Homo sapiens: one gene and its partners. The protein of the gene in region 3 interacts with the protein of the main gene of each other region in a biochemical or structural test. Each region holds a gene or a part of one and is shown on either strand. Other genes may lie near its edges.

Region 1 (3,649 bases), on a different chromosome or scaffold from region 3:
ATGTCTTGGCTTGTAACTTTTTTTTTTTTTTTGAGATGGAGATTCACTCTTATTGCCCAGGCGGGAGTGCGATGACACAATCTTGGCTCACCGCACCTCTGTCTCCAGGGTTCGAGTGATTCTCCTGCCTCAGCCTCCCGAGTAGCTGTGATTACAGGCATGCGCCACCACACCTGGCCAATTTTGTATTTTTTTAGTAGAGAAAGGGTTTCTCCATGTTGATCAGGCTGGTCTGGAACTCCTGACCTCAGGTGATCCGCCTGCCTTGGCCTCGCAAAGTCCTGGGATTACAGGCGTGAGCCGCCGCGCCTGGCCGGTTTGTAATTTTTGATGAAACTGTCGGGGTAGAGTGAAACAATCTCAGACTCCCAAGACTTGATTCACACTGCTTGACCCTGTCACCTATGACCTAGGGGGTACCCTGGCCTGGGGCCAGAGCAGGTGTGTTGGGAGGGGGTTGCATGGTGGTACTGGACTCCAGGATCCAGAGAGGGTCTTCAAGGGACACCTGACTCCCCAGGAATTTTGAGGGAGTTGTTTGAGGAACAAGATCTCTACAGGGTAACATTGTGAACCTATGGCCTTTGGAGCATTGCTTTGTACCATGTGCCCCTCACTTGTCTGCCCTCCTCCACCCACCCTTTGCCAGAGTTTGGGGTTTCCACCCTACTTCCATAGGCTCAGCCCTGAGCTTGTAGGGTGAGATGTAGCCTGTTTCCTTCATCCTTGTCCGGCTGTCTTGGCTGGATGTGGGAGGTGGTTTTGGATCCCGGAGTGGGGTAGGGGTCTGTCTGGAAGAAAGAGTTGGTGTGAGGTAGTGGGGTGGGCAGGGGTCTGTCTGCTTATGATGTCCTGGAAGTTGGGCCACTCCCTGGTTTGGCATCCAAGTGTTAGGTCATCTGGGACACAGCTCCTGGTGTCCCTGACTTCCCACTGAGACCCAACAGATTTCTCTGGCAGATGTGGGAACAAACAGCTCAGGTTTTAAACATCAGGCTCCCCTTCTCCCCTTCATGTCCCACCCCAGACAGGAATCTGTGCTTGTCCCGATCAGACCATGAACACTGCTTTGTTTCTCAGGGAGGCTCAGCCTGTGGCTCTGGTTCACTTGGGAGACTTGATGGGGGTGTTGGCAGACACTCTTTACAGGTGGACAGGGCCCAGGGGCCCAGGGATCCTGCTGAATTTTATAGGACGGGGAGGAGTAGACGTAGATGAGTCCCGAGCCCACCATGAGTTCAAGGAGCTGCTCCCTTCCTCTTCTGCCTCAGGGGTGAGGATCAGCATCTTTAAGACCCACAGAGAGAGTAGGTGGGTTAGGATGATGGGGGCTAGGGGCTAACCTTAACCTGGTTTCTGTGCCACTGGGGCTGTGCCCCTTCTGAGCACCTTGCTGTGGAGGTGCCTCTCACTGTGGAGATGGACTGGGCTACTCAGGCTGCTGGGAATCGTGGGCATTTCTGAACCTGTGTTCCCCAGCCCACGGGAAAGGGTGTGAGCAGGACTGGGTGCCAGCCTTGGTGTGGGCACAGGCTGAACTGCCTGCCCACGTGGGCCCTGCCAGAGCACCAGCAGCCCTACCTGCCACATTCCTGAGCTTGGCCTCAGCCCTGCCTGCGCAGCCTTTTTTGTCTTAATCCCATACCTGTGCCCGTCAGGAGCAATTTAGCCCCTTCAACTCTGCCCCCCAATCTGAGTGCACCTTTCTCCAGCCATAGAGTCCAAGCCCTGTGGTCCCAGCAGCAAGCCTGGGACCTCAGGGTCTCGTGTGTGCATGTGTGCGTGCATGCGCATGTGTGTTCATGTTCTTGTGTTTCTGCCATAGCTGGCTTCTGGGCTTCTGGGCTCCAAATGGACCCCACCCTTGGGAATCTGATGAGAATGTAAGGCTTACTGAGAATTAATCCTGCCAGGAGGTGGGGCTGTCTAGGGGGGCAGAGCTGATTGCTGGTTCGAGGCTTGGGGAGCAGAGTTAGGGCTTAAACTCGCAGCAGCTCACAGCCTCCTCTGATGGCTTCCTGCTACCTTGCTTTCATTGGGTATTGGAGGGCCTGCCTTCATTTGGAAGCAAATGAATGAGATCATGTCTGGGGTGGATCGTGGGCCGTTTAGGGATGGGCCAGGTGTCTGTATGCATAGTGTCTGAGGCTTGAGGACTAACTGTGGGGGAGAACTGGAGGAGTGGGCATGGGTTGGCAAAGCCGTGGTCCTGTAATACCTCCTCCTTTACTATACTGGCCTCAGCAGGGCTACTGCTGGGCCTTTTGTTGCTTTCGTACAAACTGGGAAAAAATCGTCCCTTGTTTTGGGTGGACTCAGCATGTCAGGCCATGGCTTGGCAGGCAGGGCACAGGCTGGATTTCGTATCTCCCTGGGCCAGACCTCCTTACACAGAGCACAACCTGTACAATATACACAAAGTGCTGGGCTTGGGCCCTGCACCTGCCAGGCCAAGGGTACTAGATTTGGGATGGAGAGGTCTCTGACTTTCTCAATTCCTGGAAAGAGAAGCTCTTGTCCTGGTCTGTTGTTGAACTGTGGGAGACCAAAACAGAAGCACATCCATATTTCCAGAGCTGGGTGGCACAAGGATCAGAAAGTCGGGAGAAGACCCCTAGAAGTCCCAGCTTAGGCTATGGAGGCTGGGATACCAGTTTCTCCCTTCACTTCTGCCAGGGACTCTAGATCAGCCCTGCATCTCCCCACTGCTATGGATACAGATCAGAAGCCCCCCTGCACTTTCTCCTTTGGTGCACACCTAGTCCCATGGCAGGCACTGTTGGGAGTCTATAGGGTCTCCCCAGCTGGCAGTAGACACTCACCTGAAAAGGGGTCTGTTGGGTTTGGCCACCATAGCCATTTCCTATCCCTTGGGCTCTGGGAGCCTCATCAGTTAGTAAGATAAGAAACCAGGGTCTATCCAGTTCTGCAGATTTCTCCTGTGGCTGTGGGCAGGTATCCCTCCCTCTCATCCCTCATCCCCAGGTACAAACTGATGAGCTCCAAGGTCTCCTTCGACTCTCAGATTCCTGAGTTAGGGGCCTCTAACCCTGCTCCATCTCTCCCCAGGGATGCCGTTCTGAGTGCCTGACTGCCTCGCCCCGAAGGATGGCCTCGGATGGGCATTAGAGGCACGGCGGCCCCGGGCTCCCGTCCCGTCCGTCTGTCTGTTATCGTCTGTCTCTCTTGACATCACCGCAGCTCCACCCCCTCCCGTCCCAGCCCCCAACGCCAGCTTCCTGCAGGCCCAGAGCCGGCATGAACTCTCCCAACGAGTCGGGTAAGAGCTGGGAGGTTGGAGAAGAGCACCCTGGGGTAGCTTCGGATGCAATGGGCTGTGTGGGTTTCCCTTCCAGGCCAGCTGACCTTTACTGTCTGAGCTATAAGGGAATGAGGGGGTAAGGAGTGGAGAAGTGTTGCAAGAAAGGGCCCATGAGGTAGACCTGGGAATCGAGGGATCGATGGTCCGGTCTGGTCCTGGGAAGGCAATGGGTCCTACTCTGCCCCCCATGCTTGCCCTCTCAACTTAGGGGTGTTCAGCTCCAGCTTCGCCTTCCCCTGCTAGCCAAGACAGGTGGGCCTGAGGGGGCAGTGTGTATCCCTTAATCTCTCTGGGCAGTCTGGGATGATGTTGGAGGAATTTCTTTAC
Region 2 (3,649 bases), on a different chromosome or scaffold from region 3:
ACCAATTATTGCTAGTAGAGATTGGAAGTTCAATATCAATTTAGTGTAAAGTGAGAAAGTGAAATCCCACTTCTTTTTTTAGAGAGAAGATGAAATTCAATGAAGGACCTTAAGTTCCCCACCATACAAGGGCTTTAATTATTTGAATAACACAATCCTTGGACTTTTTTTCTGCTCCCAGAATACCACGCAACACTGATGTATTAAGCTTAATTCTAAAATACATATCAGATACAGGGTGCTGATATAATGAGATATATAATGTATCAGTGATTTAAGAAAGAATAATAGGAATGGAAATCTTAAATTGAAACTTTTTCAAGACACTTAAATTTTTCTAGTAAATCAGGAGGAAATCAGTCATTTTTAATCAGTTTTAGTTTTGTGGAAAGCAGTGTTTATGTGGGAGCGTAGTTTGAAACCACTGTTGGGGTGGGAGAAGAGTTGGTCAGAGAAATAACAAATTAAGTATATTTCTTGTTTAGCCACTTCAGAAAAACACACATTTATGTTAGTACTGTATATGAGCCTTAAGGGTAAGGGTAAGTGCCTTAAGTCTCTACTGTTTTTCTGTATTGCCCTGCAATATTTAATAAACATTACTTTTTCAATATGGAATTCATACTATACTATTTTAAATTGTTCTTTCTAATTCTCCATTTAGTATGAATAATAATGATAACTACCGTCATGTATTGAGTGCTTAATATACGCCAGGATTTGCATGGTGTTCCTCACATGCACTGGCTCATTTGGTCTGATTTCGCTAATTAGCTTTTGGAGTTTCTTGAGAGCACGTTCTCAGTGGCTTTAAAAAAACAAAAACAAAAGCAAAAAGAAAAAAAAACACCTGGATTATCAGTTGACAATAAATTAGAAGATTACTGAGCCAGCAACCCTTCTTGAGTTTTTTTGGATTGCATACAGTGCGTCTGCTGTCTTCCTGACTTGCCTTTATCCACACCACTCCTTCAAGGAGTTATTCGTCAGAAAAAGGCTGAAGAGCTCACTCATTTAGCTCTTTTTTTGTCTACTAACAGTGGGAAAGCAACTACTTCTGAAGTAGAAAAGTCTGTATTGCTTCAGAGTTACTCTGTTTACTTCTGGAACTGTTCTACATAACCATAAATGTTGAGAAGAGACTGTCCCACGCATCTCAGTCAAGTTGTATGGCAGTTTTACCTCTTTTGAAATATAAACAAAAGCATTCTATTCAAATAATTTTATAAAATTGACTGATTGTTTGAATTAATCAACTTAACTGTTTTCGGCATGACATTGAGCCACAGGTTTCAACCTCATTTTGGTTCCTTACTGTTCGTATTTGTAATATACTCTCATCACCAACATCTCGTTTTCTGCAGTGATTCTTACTGGGAAGGGCAGGATGAGTGGTGGAGGTCACATTATAATCTATATAAATTGAAAATGATCCACTGGAAGAGAATGTGTCTCTGCTTTCTCCCTTTCCCTGTTAAGGAACATTGATATTAGCGGAGTTGATATAGCCTTCTATAAAATAAACTTAGCATGATAAAGAAAAGAGATGGGGAGTTTGATTAGATAGGGTCAATTAAGACTGAATTTAAAATATAAAGGTCTCATCACTGTTTTTGTTTTTAATTAAGAGCTTAGAAGCTCTAATATATTGTGTTCTATTCAGTTTATAGCCAACTTAAATTATAGGTATGAGAATATAATTGCATTCTAATATCTGATAATTGAATATCCTTTTTTTAACCTTTAGAATTCAGAAATAGACTCTTCAATTACCAATAGCTGTAACTTTTAATTTACATATTATTTACTTTAGGGAAAAAAAGCATTTCATTCATGCTTTCTTGCTGTTCGTTTATAATTATTTGTGACAGAAAATCAATAAAATACATGCTTGAATTCCAGATACCAATGGATCAGATAACTCCATCCCAATGGCTTATCTTACACTGGATCACCAACTACAGGTAAAGGAGTACTTTCTTATTGAAAGTTGACTTTTTTCTTCTTAGAGAGTTTAAGTTGACAATTGTGTTGCTACCTGTCATTGTATAGTCACTCCTTAATTTATCCTTTTAGTTGGCCTCCTTAAACTTTTTAGAATCAAATCAAAATAATTCTTTTGGTTAAGTTAATCAAACTTTAAATTGGCAGAATCATATTCTTATCTTTTCAGTCATCTTAAAATCCTCCAGTATCTTTCTTTAGTACTGCTAAGCATTACATTTTCACTCTTTAATTTTAGTGCATTAAAACAAAACTCATAAGCTTATTTCTATTTAATACATTTGTGATACATTCTCATGTTCATAGTGACTGAAAATGTAAATAATATACTTCAGTGCCCCCTCATGAGTATGAGGGCTATAAACATCATTTAGTTTGAGCCTGTTTGCAGCCTGAAATGTCATACCAGAGACTACAACTCCAACAATCATGATTCTCTGTAACAGACTGTTAAAACAGCAAGAATAGATTTAAATGCTGAGTTAATTCTGACAAAAGGACACTGAGATTTTCTAGGGCATGGTTTAACACTTATTTTTAAAAGATCATTGCTTTAGTGCTATAAAAATATATCACAGTCTCTGTCTTGACTCTCATCTTAGCTAGATATTGAAATTTGATTTAATTATGTTTTAACATTCCTGATTATTTTCAGCCTCTAGCACCGTGCCCAAACTCCAAAGAATCTATGGCAGTGTTTGAACAGCATTGTAAAATGGCACAAGAATATATGAAAGTTCAAACAGAAATTGCATTGTTATTACAGAGAAAGTAAGTTATTTTTTATGAATAAAAATAAAAATACATTAGTATTTTGAGTTTAAAATATGATAAGGTGCAATGAAAACGTAGTTTTTAGAATTAGTCATTAAGTATACTTTCAACTTGTTTAAGCTTTAAGCACCCTTTTACTAAAAATTTTTTATGCAAAACTCAATCCTTTTGACTATCATATTAGTGCTATGGAAAATAAACTGGTGCTTTATACTTGTTGTTTTATGTTCTCAGAGCTGTTTAGACTTATTATTATAAAGATTTATTGTTTTCTTGTAAATAGATAAAATAATTTGATTTATTAACATTCAGTTGTGCCTTATCTTAGAAACATTTTTGTAGATACATTTTTTCCAGGTGTATGTTTAGAATTGGATTACTTATTAAAAGACTGTATTTCATAACTGAGTGTTTTTCTGAGGAGTTATAGAAACTGCCTTCCTCCCTTTTTAAAGAAACACAGCCTAATTTCCTTACTACTGCATTCACAGTTCTTAAATATGTATGTATCTTCAGTTTTCTTAAGCATGACCTCCATGAAATTTTATACTTAGGTAACTGAATTGTTGGTGGTAACTAAAATGAAGTGATAAGGAAAAAATTTTGGCAACTTTATATATGTATGATAATAGGATTCCCTTCATTAATTTTAATCTAAATAAATGAAAGTTGTTTTTTTCTGAATTTGCGAAAAGCTTTCTGTATGTACTTCAAAAAAAAGAGAGAAAAAATTGTTTTATCATAATTTATTGATACAGTGATTTAAATGGAACCAACCTGGTATTTGAAAGGTAAGCCTAAATAGGAAATTAAATACTACAGTTTGGAAATCGTAGAAGTAATTATCAAACTGCTGGCACTTTTATGTTGA
Region 3 (4,136 bases):
TAGAAAAGGGAGGCATCACTAGCCATCTTCTCTGATGGAGACTGCTGCTGGGAATAGACAAGCTGAGAGTGGCCCAGGGGGCTGGGAATATGAGAATGTCAGGACCCCTCTGTCCAAGGTAGCACTAAGCTCTAATGTAAACTGTGGTTACAGTTGTCACTACTAAAGGGTTAACATTTATTTTGCCCCAAACTAATCTTAAGTGCTTTTCGTGTATTCTTATTCAAGCCTCACAACAACCATGTGAAGTAGGTGCAATTATTACCCCCATTTTAGGGATGGGGAAACTGAGGCACAGAGCAGTAGGGAGAACACTTAAAATCTACTGTCTTAGAGATTTTCAAGAATACATTGTTACTAATAGTCACCGTGTTGTACAGTGGATCTCTTGAACGTATTCCTCCTGTCTAACTGAAATGTTGTATTCTTTGACCAGCATCTCCCTACCCCCACCACTCCTAGCCGCTGGCAACCACCACTCTACTCTCTACTTCTGTGAGTTCGACTTTCTTGGATTCCACATAAGTGACATCACATGGGATTTGTCTTTCTGTGCCTGGCTCATTTCACTTAATGTCCTCCAGGTTTATCCATGCTGTCACAGATGACAAGATTCCTTTTGTAAGGCTCAGCAGCACTGCATTGTGTATCAGTACCTCATTTCTTTATCCATTCATCCATTGTGGACACCTACGTTGATTCCACGTCTTGGCTATTATGAATAGAGCTGCAGTGAACGTGGGAGTACAGATATCTCGACATGCTGATTTCATTTCCTTGGAGTATCTACCCTGTAGTGGGATTGCTAGACCATGTGGTAATTTTAGTTATAACTTTTTAGGAACCTTCATGCCATTTTCCATAATGGTTGTACTAATTTACATGCCCATCAGCAGTGCACTAAAAGTAGCTTTTAAGTGTTCTCACCACAAAAACATGGTAAGCATGTTCTGCGTGTGTTGATGAGCTTGATTTAGCCATTCCACAATGTGTCCATATTTCAAAACAACATATTGTACATGGTAAATATACATAATTTTATCTGTCAATCTTTGAAATTGATTAATTTTTTAAAAACCCCTCTTAGGCTCACACAGCAACTGGCTGAGCCAGCAGTCACATCAGGCTTGGCTGGTGCCAGATCCTTGGTAGTTGGTGCTCTCAGCAGCCACCCTGAATGGCCTCCCAGCGGGAGCTTGCTGAGTATTTGTTGACACAATGATTGGCCCAGCCTCTGGGATCCTAAGCCTACAGCAGTTGTTCTACACTTTTTTCCATTTGAATTGCATTTATAACAGTTGGGGGTATACAATGAAAAAATAAATCCCGATTTCTGGCTTCTCTTAAAACATAGGAAGGTGCGGCGGGCAGCTCTGAGTGCCAGCCCGGTGGCAGATTTTCCAGAGTAGTGGTGTCTTGCCCAGGTATCCGTTTCATTCTTCAGGTTCATTGAGTCTTACAGATACAAGTTTTGAATCCATTGCTCAGGAGCGTTTAGTGCAGATGGTCTCTTCCTGTGTTCTCTGAAAGTGCTGTTAATAGCTGCTTTCTTCCTGCCCCACCCTCCATAAGAGGACAGGGCCGTGGCCCACACTTGAAAGAGGCCGGGGTAAATGCCTGGCCAGAGACACACACCGATGCCTCCAGCAGGCATGCAGGGAGCTCCCTTCAGGTCAGAAGGCGTGACCTTCATCTCACCTGTCGTCTTGGACAAGCCCTTGCGCTGCCTGATTTGGGAAGAGAGGTCGGCCTGAGCGCTGCCTCCTGTCCTTTGATATCTGGCACTGGGAAGTAAAGGGGAGAATCTTGGTTTCCAAATCCCAAATGCTCACCGCTGCCTTTGTTCCCTCACAGTGTGATCCAGCTTTGCTTCCTGAGCCCAATCACGTCATGCTGAACCACCTATACGCGCTGTCTATCAAGGTAATGACATGTCTGTCCCCATGAGAGCTGTGTTGCCCAGTGTGTGCTCTGAGGACCCCCAGCAGTGGAATGACCTGGCGGGACTGACTTAAAGGGCAGCTTCCAGGGTCTGGCACAGGCCATCAGGCTCAGGTTCTGAAGCTGGCCCGGGAATTTGTGGTTTTATGAAGCCCTTAATGATTCTCATGTCCTCTGAGGCTTGAGCCCCTTAGTCCAGCCTTTGATCATTTCCACCTTGTTCCTTAGGATGGAGTGATGGTGCTCAGCGCAACCCACCGGTACAAGAAGAAGTACGTCACCACCTTGTTATACAAGCCCATATGAAGAGCTGGGGGCGGATGGTGGCCCAGGAGACAGCACACCACCAGGCTCCACACGTGCATGCTTTCCCCAAGAGGGAATGGACTGTACATTGCTCATTTCACACTCTTCAGAAGACATTTCATACCTGCCCTGGTCCTGCTTGAAGGTTTGTCCAGGCAGAGCAGCTCCTGCAGCGCCTCGGTCTGTGACAGTCCTCCTAGCACCCCCATGGCTTTGAGCCTCGGGGACTCATCAAGTCCAAGAAAAGAGGGAGGGGTGGCAGAGGATCTGCAGCCCTGGCCCCGCGGTGCATGAGGCTGGGTGCAGTTCTAAACCTACATTCTCGATTTTTCTTAAGCCAAAAATGAATGCTAACTCCTTTGCCAGTAAAATTCTGGGAAACAGGGACTGAGGCCACACATCATTTCCAGTCATCTGTGTGTTTTTAAGGCCAGCCACTTGTCCCTGTTGAGGCCTGGCTATGGAACTAAATACAGTGTTGGTCTTGCCTGTCCTTCAAAATCAACAACAGATTGTCTCTCGGCTCCAGGGAGGTGTCATTTCTATAGAAATTAGAAGCTTTCTGATTTCTAGATGAGGTTTTACAATTGTTTCTTACAGTCATGTGCACTAAGTACTCTTTTTGTAAGCAGAGGTGGCTGGCTCTGCAGCCTTAAGGCCATTTTTTAAGTCACCACGTCTAGAAGTCACATGAACTCTGCTCAGCAATAATCTGTTCTCAGAACAGACTTTTCAACCTGCTGCCGGATTTCTCCATTCAGCTGGATGATCCTCAGGACTGACCAGTTAGCTGGCAGGTTGTCCAGCTTTTTATTCCAGTCATAATAGGTGACAGTGTTAACCGTGAAAACTTGAGAGGCACTCTGCCCTCTTCCCTATAAAATCACACAGCGTGATTTTACAAGGTCCCGTGGCACCTTGCTCAGGACCTCTGCCCCTAGTTAGCAAGACTGCAGCAGTTGCTGTTGCTTATTCTGAAAGGAATGTAGAACTTGACAGCAGCCTTCTGAGTCTGGGTCAGGAAGATGTCCTTTGGACCAAAGCAGACTTCTTTATACGCAGCTCAGTTTCCCGGGAGTCGCCACAGATGTACCCACTAGCCCAGGTTGCTGTGAGTCAGCGGAAGCTCCCGTTATGCCCTTTGCTCCTGGTGGGAGAGGGAGGAGTGAGCTCCCTGGGTTCCAGTATTTACTTGGTATACCTGAGTTTGGGGGTACCCTTTTTTGTGACTTTTCAAAACAGTGAATTACTGTCACCTTGATGGACAAGTTTCAATAAAACTTTGTAAAAATAATTGGACATGTGCCTGGAGGAGCTCTGATTTTATTCAGTCCCTTGGAGAAGAGACTGGAACTCTTCGAGAGTTGCGTTTCAGTACCGTTCTTGTGGCTCTGAGCGGACAGGGCTACTCCAGCTGCCCAGGCCTGAGAACCAGTCCTGTGACTCACACCCATTCACACAGTTTGGAACCTTAAGGGACCCCTAAAACTGAGCCCCTCTGAACAGCTCAAGTCACAAGGGGAAGCTGAAGAGGGGTAACAGCAGAGGCTCCTGGCTTCGGCCAGTTGTTGGTGTCCCCAGGCCAGAGGGTTTGTTTCCTTTTGCTCCTAAACAAGCCCGGTGGGACAGCCTGGGATCGTGACCCTGGCGTGTGAGAGAGCAGGACGTTGTGGAGTCAGAGCTGTTTTCATCCACTAAAAGAGGCCGTGTCCCTCCTCCAAAAAGGTGGAAGGTTATGGGTGTTCCTTTAAGCCTTCTCAGGTATCAGGAAACATTTTAAATTTAGCAGAAAAGCATGCTAATGAGCTCTACCCACTGGTGCAGAAAACCCAAGCTGAAAATGCTATGTAAAATAAGACTGGTTTACTGGAGCCAGTCACCCCATGAGT

What was found.
Region 1: of the proteins of PRKAB1 (region 3) and HDAC5, one has a biochemical effect on the other in vitro, tested with the Homo sapiens proteins (one study listed by BioGRID).
Region 2: of the proteins of PRKAB1 (region 3) and MAP3K7, one has a biochemical effect on the other in vitro, tested with the Homo sapiens proteins (one study listed by BioGRID).

The regions. Positions count from the first base shown.
Region 1 is NC_000017.11:44,117,125-44,120,773, reverse strand, and holds part of HDAC5 (histone deacetylase 5), read left to right. Parts: intron 1-178; exon of another isoform or gene 179-336; intron 337-670; exon of another isoform or gene 671-787; intron 788-3,069; 5' UTR 3,070-3,258; coding exon 3,259-3,280; intron 3,281-3,649. UniProt on the Homo sapiens protein: Responsible for the deacetylation of lysine residues on the N-terminal part of the core histones (H2A, H2B, H3 and H4).
Region 2 is NC_000006.12:90,517,573-90,521,221, reverse strand, and holds part of MAP3K7 (mitogen-activated protein kinase kinase kinase 7), read left to right. Parts: intron 1-1,902; coding exon 1,903-1,964; intron 1,965-2,659; coding exon 2,660-2,775; intron 2,776-3,649. UniProt on the Homo sapiens protein: Serine/threonine kinase which acts as an essential component of the MAP kinase signal transduction pathway. Plays an important role in the cascades of cellular responses evoked by changes in the environment.
Region 3 is NC_000012.12:119,678,079-119,682,214, forward strand, and holds the end of PRKAB1 (5'-AMP-activated protein kinase subunit beta-1), read left to right. Parts: intron 1-1,854; coding exon 1,855-1,923; intron 1,924-2,169; coding exon 2,170-2,247; 3' UTR 2,248-3,541; downstream 3,542-4,136. UniProt on the Homo sapiens protein: Non-catalytic subunit of AMP-activated protein kinase (AMPK), an energy sensor protein kinase that plays a key role in regulating cellular energy metabolism.